2 separate regions of the Homo sapiens genome follow, and region 2 is linked to region 1. The links come from fine-mapping of genetic effects on gene expression. Tissue or cell type: whole blood. Region 1 holds a variant in brackets; the other region holds the start of a gene. Each region is shown on its reference strand, or each on the opposite one.

Region 1 (2,895 bases):
GGAGTTCAAGACCAGCCTGGCCAACGTGGAGAAACCCCGTCTCTACTAAAAATACAAAAACTAGCTGGGCGTGATGGCGAGTGCCTATAATCCCAGCTACTCGGGAGGCTGAGGCAGGAGAATCACTTGAACCCAGGAGGCAGAGGTTTCAGTGAGCCGAAATTGCACCACTGCACTCTAGCCTGGCTGACAGAGCAAGACACCGTCTCAAAAAAAAAAAAAAAAAGTGGATGACTCTGACATTCCTCCAGTTTCCCTGGGGAGGGTTTGATTACCTGGGTTTGTTTGAGAGAGGACCTAACTGGAGCTTGGGGTACATGGGTCCTAACTGTCTGAGCAGTCCCAGGTACCCTGTGTCATCGGCTCTGGAAAAAGCCCCACCTGGCTATGCTGGGCACCCTCTTACTTGGGACATTCCTTTGTAACTGGGAGTGATTTTTTGGTATGGGAGTTTCATCACCTTGATTGTTGACCATTTTCCCCACAGAGAACACTGCTCCCTAGACCATCGGAAAACCAGTCCCACAACGTTTGTTCCTTCTCCATCCTGTCTAACTCTTCCGTAACTGGTAAGGACCCTGAGCTTTTCTGGGGTAGCTTGTCCCTCCTCCTCACAGGAGGGCCTTGGCTTTGGAGACAATGGGTGCTTATTTCCATGGCCTATCTTCAGGCATTCCTTTGTCCATTCTACCGACAAATACCTAATGTGCCCTATGTGCTGGGCTGCAGGCTGCGGTGGCGGGCGAGGCAGCTAGTCCAGCGAGGCAGCTAGTCCAAAGGGTGCCCTTCGTCTGTGGCCTCAGATGGCCCTGTGTGAGGCGCTTGGCTTGGTTAGAGTTGTGTCTCTTGTCTGCTCTCTCTGTGTAATGTCTTGTCAGCCGTTTTATGGGATGGATGTGTTCTTGGGGTGTATGGATTATGCTTCCATCAGTCTGTACATTTAGTGGGGGCCTTGGCTCCTTGCGGTAGATATTACACAGGGAGAAGCCTCTAGTGAAACACATACTCTGTGACTTCCCTTTTCTACCAGTGTTGACTTCCACGTCTCTCACTGACTTATTGCAAGACCCTTAACAGCTGTCAATTGCTTTTTCTCTTGCCTACTTGTCAATTTTCAACTGTGGGAAGCCTGGCAAGATAAAACCAAATTGCAGTGGCAGCATCTTAGTCCAGAATCTGATGCTCTGACTGCCCTGGGGCCTGTACCTCAGCTTGGGGGCTTGTCACCCTTCAAGAGCCATTTCCGCAGGATGACAGTGGTGACCGCAGCCTTCCAGTAGCTCCTGGGAGGCACAGTGGTGGGTGCCAGAGCTTGTGTCACGTTGGGGGCCTGTGTGACCTCTGACTCCTCATGTTAGCATTTGGAATGTTCAGTGGCTTCCAGCTTGGCTCGGCTCCCACACTCCCAACAGTGGCTGTAAAGGAAGCCCCCTGCGGCC[A/C]CATCCTGCTGTGAGGGCATGGCGGGCGGGCTCGACATGTCTGCTTTTGCCCTCGCCCTCGCAGGGAGAGGTTCGTTCCGGCCCATCCAGTCTTCTCTGACCAAAGCAGCTCTGTCTCGGCCGATCGTGCCCAAGGTCCTTCCACCCCAGGCCACGAGTCACCTGGCCAGTAAGTCTGTACCTGCATGGCCACAGCCACTGAGTGAGCCTCTGAGGGATGTTTTTGTGACCAGGTTTTTTGAATGTTTTCTTCTCCAAATCATAATGTCTCATTACCCTTCACCAAGAACATCTAAGCCCTTGGCTCTTGCATTGACATGAGGTGCGAGGGAGAAGCTGTTCCCCGAGCCCTCTTGGGACATCTTATGGGTTGTCAGTAGAGCAGAGATGTGCAGCGTCCTTTTTGTTGCCAGGTGCTATCGACTTAGCAGCTACAAGTGCCGGCATCCTTTCCGGGAACCCCCTCCCTGCCTTGGACACCGAGGGCTTGTCTGGCATCTCTCCACTGTCTTCAGACGAGGTGACGGGTGCCATCTCGGGGCAGGACTCTACTGGAACTCACCAGGATGGAGACACCCTCCCCACCGTGGGGGTGAGTATGTTTAGAAGGGCTTTTCAGCATTACCACCAACTTCTGGTGTGGACGCCAAAGCCATGGGGCTGAGATCACGCTGGACTCCAGCTCTGCCTTTGGAGGAGAGTCTCTGGACCAGGGGTGCCATGGCATAAGCAAACTCTGTGTAGTACAGAGCAGGAGAGGCCTCCGGAGCCACTGACGAAAGGTGGGGACAGGCTTGCCATGTGGCACTGGAGAACTCAGAGCTAAGACGGTGTGGAAACATAGCTCCATCTGAGAGTGACCATAACCAAGGTGGCAGCCCACAGCGCTGTGCTCGGACACCACTGAGCATCTCTTTCATCTGGGAAGAGAGCAGCCTGTATGGCCTTGGCCATTGCTCCTTTCCAAGGCTCTGAGCACCTGGTTTCTCTGGCCTCCCACGGCCACTTCAGAGCTGCCCCAAGGAGGGTGGGGTGGGCTGATGCTGTTAAGACTCCAGGGAGCCCAGCCCTGCCTGCCACAAGGTTGACTTCCTGATAGGACTTTACTTCACTCTTGGAAGCAACAAAAAATTGGAAGTACACGGTCCACACCTGAAAGTAGCCTTTCAGTGTTCTCGACCTTAGACCCCTGTCCATTTACTGTCCCTCTGCTGTTAGGAGGCCAGGGGGATGGAACGCCTCTTTTTCTGGAACTCTGTCGCGGGTGAGGGTATGGGTGGCATCTGGTGCACCCTGCGGCTGCTCATGGGCGTGCTCTTCCTGCAGGGCTCCGACCCATTTGTCAGCATCCCTTCGAGGCCTGAGCAGGAGCCAGTGGCAGACAGTTTCCAGGTAGAGTGTGCTCTTGGGCTGCTGAGCAAAGCAGCTGCCCCAGGACTCCCTCCAGTGCCCTGAG
Region 2 (2,895 bases), not on the chromosome of region 1:
GGCCAACAGATCTGGGGTATAAGGACCCGAGGGGCCCGCCATCCAACCCCGCGTGCCGAAGGCGCCCATCCCTATTCCACTCAGATTAAACGAGAGAGGCTGAAAGGTTTAAACGCTTTATTGTGCCCAAAAAAAGGCCCATGGAATGAAGGGAAGAGCCGCGCAGCCCTGAGCCCGGAGCGATTGTTTGTCGCGCACCCAAAGGCAAGGAGGGTGGGGAGCTGGGAAAGGATGCGCGGCCTCCGCGTCCCCGCGCGCCTGGGCCCGGCCAACCAGCGACCCCGCCCGGTGGGCAGGCGCGGCCTCGGCCATCGGCGCCTAGGGGCCAGTAACCATGACGACGGCCGTTGCCAAGGCCGAGAGCCAATAGAGGCGTCGCCGGGGCTGTTTCAAAAACCTAAAGCAAACAACGAAAAACGCTACATCGTTGGGGGAGGGGAAAGACTGAGAGGACCCGGGGCCCCTCCCTGAGGCTCAGACCAGGCCTCGCGGCCCCGGCCGGCGTGAGCCGTACAAAATCTACGTCACTTGGGGTAGAAAAACAAAAACACCGAAAAGCCCACGCCGGCCGCTCTGACCGGCCGACACGCTCACTTGCGGCCCTTGGGCACTTTGGGGACGCTGGGCTTGGCCGCCTTCTTCACCTTCTTGCCCCCGGCGGCCGCCGTCTTCTTGGCCTTGCCGCCTTTGTCCTTCTTGGCGCCAGCGCCCTTCTTGTGCGAGCGCTGCTCCGGCTTCTGGCCCCTGGCGGGCTTCTTGTCCGCGCGCCGGGAGCCGGCCGCGCCCGGGGCTGCCTTCTTCGCTTTGTGCGCGGTGGGGGCCGGGGCGGTGGCGGCCGCCGGGGCTCCGCGCCGCTCCCCGCCGCCCTCCAGCTTCTTGCGGTTGAGCTTGAAGGAACCGTTGGCGCCGGTGCCCTTCACCTGCAGAAGCGTGTCGTTCTGCACCAGCGCCTTGATCGAGTACTTGAGGTAGGTGCGCCCATTCTGCTGGTCGAACCACGGAACCTTCTTGGCCTCGGTGTAGATCTTGGCCAGCGACGAGCCGTTGCGCTCGCCCAGCCTACGGATGGTCTCCACCACCAGCTGGCTGTACTTGCCCGGCTGGTTCTTCTTCTTGCTATTCTTCCTCTTCTTAGATGGGGACAACGCCGCCGAGCCGCCAGCCTTGGTCACCTTCTTGGCCATTCCCTCGGCGGTCGTCACTGGCAGGGCCTCCTCGAGCTCCACGGACATGGTAGCAAGAGGATTGGTGGCGGGCGGCGCGCGGAAGCCGGGGGGCCGCGCCGGGAAGAGGAAGGCGAGGGGCCGAGGGGGTGCAGGGGGGCTGGGGGCGCGCGGCGGCTCCAGGCGGGAGCGGCCGCGGCCGGGCCTGGGGCCGGGCGGCAGGGCTGGGGTGGGGGCCGGGCCGGGCCGGAGCGAGGGTTGGGGGGCCCGGAGCCGGGGCCGGACTAGGGGACCGAGTTGGGGGTCAGAGACCGAGTCCGAGCCGGCGGCTGGAGCTGGGGACGTAGACCTAGGCCGAGCCGGAGCGAAGAGAAATCCCGCCGAACGCGAGACACCGCCGCCGCAGCTTCCACTGGCGCCTCTGGAACTCGCTGGGCGTGCGCGCTGCGCTCTGGCGGGAGGGCGCTTCTCTCGGCTTTTTATAGCTTCATGGCGGACCACGTTGAGAACAACAACAGCCTGGTCCGGGGCCAGCGCCAACTTGTGCTTCTTGGAGCCCCTTCTCCGGCCGCTGGCTTCTCGGACCGCGCCTCTCCAGCGCCGCCGCGCCCGCAGCGGGGCGCCCCGGACAGGGCCTGAGCTCCCGGCGCAGTGGAGAGGCGACTTGCGTCCTGGAAGGGCTCAGCAAAGGCGAACGGAGAGGTGCACCCTAGGCTGCGGGAGCGCGAGAGGAGGGGGGCACCTCGTTTGGAGGCCAATAGCGCGGGCCCCAGAGGAGGCCCCACGGCCGGGAGCTTGGCGGCCGGCAACCCAGAGAACGCCACGGGCACCCGAGCCTTGTCCCGGCCCGGGGGGCTCCAGGCCTGCCCGCAAGAGGAGCTTTAATTTGTCCAAACTAACACAGGGCGCGCCCTCACGTGGTCGGCTGGGGCAACGTGAACTGCGCTAGGACATCCTCGGGGGTTTTCCGCCCCATCCAAAGGGGATGGCGGATGGGAGGCACTCTCCAGCTGCACCCCGGGTTCTGGTTGTGCCTCTGGGAGCCTAGGCACAACCCGGGGAATGGAGGACTACGGCAGGACCTCTCTAGGGACACTGCCTCGCCGCTCCCCCCACCCTGTTGCCGCTGATGTTCCCAGGGCCTCATTTTGTAATCCACAAGTAGCTGCCGCCGGTCCCCCCAAAGCCAAATGGGGGCTCCAGGGTGGGACAGGGTGGGCGGGGGTGAGGCTGTGACACCCAGAGGAATTCCTGTGAGAGGATGGGGAAGGGATTCGCTCTTAGTTCCTGGGTGCACCCCTCCCCCTCTCCCGTGCACAGGGAAATGATGGCGGGAACACAGCAAAGGAGACCATGTCCTGGAGAGGGTCCCGGGCCCCACCCTCCCCGGGGGGGCTTGTGCAAGGCTGGCGGCCCGATCTCTGCTGATTCCAGTATTGGGGGTGCAGAGAAGGCACAGGACAGTTTTTGTTGAAGCCGTTGCAGCCTCCACTTGGGGAAGCTGAGGCCAGGGTAAGATGCTCGGGTAGGAGAGGGGATCCCTTTGGGGGTAGGTGATGTAGGGCACAGGAGTGGGGCTGGGGCTGGGGGGTGGCAGGGTTGCAGGCAGGAGACAGTCTCCAGAGGCCCAGCATAGAAAAGCGATGGAGGGGTGAGGGGGGACAGGACGCTGGCGAATTGGGGTTCCCAGAGTGAGAGACAGGAACATTTACAGGTGGACAGAGTAAAAGGC

The links.
Region 2: H1-10 starts here. The variant in region 1 is fine-mapped to the expression of H1-10 in whole blood (TOPMed, PIP above 0.99).

What each region holds. Positions count from the first base shown.
Region 1 is chr16:1,664,570-1,667,464 of GRCh38, forward strand. It overlaps CRAMP1 (cramped chromatin regulator 1), which reads left to right. Exons shown (of 21, transcript NM_020825.4): 14 at 488-569; 15 at 1,504-1,608; 16 at 1,853-2,031; 17 at 2,766-2,831. Among named protein-coding and RNA genes, the nearest start is that of JPT2, 12 kb to the right of the region's middle. The variant A/C (reference allele first, on the strand shown) is at 1,440.
Region 2 is chr3:129,314,671-129,317,565 of GRCh38, forward strand. H1-10 (H1.10 linker histone) reads right to left here and starts at 1,616. Exons shown (of 1, transcript NM_006026.4): 1 at 101-1,616. The coding sequence starts at 1,232. The coding sequence ends at 591. It overlaps H1-10-AS1 (H1-10 antisense RNA 1), which reads left to right and starts at 1,601. Exons shown (of 5, transcript NR_026991.1): 1 at 1,601-2,675. RefSeq lists silencers at 155-444, 825-954, 1,755-2,094.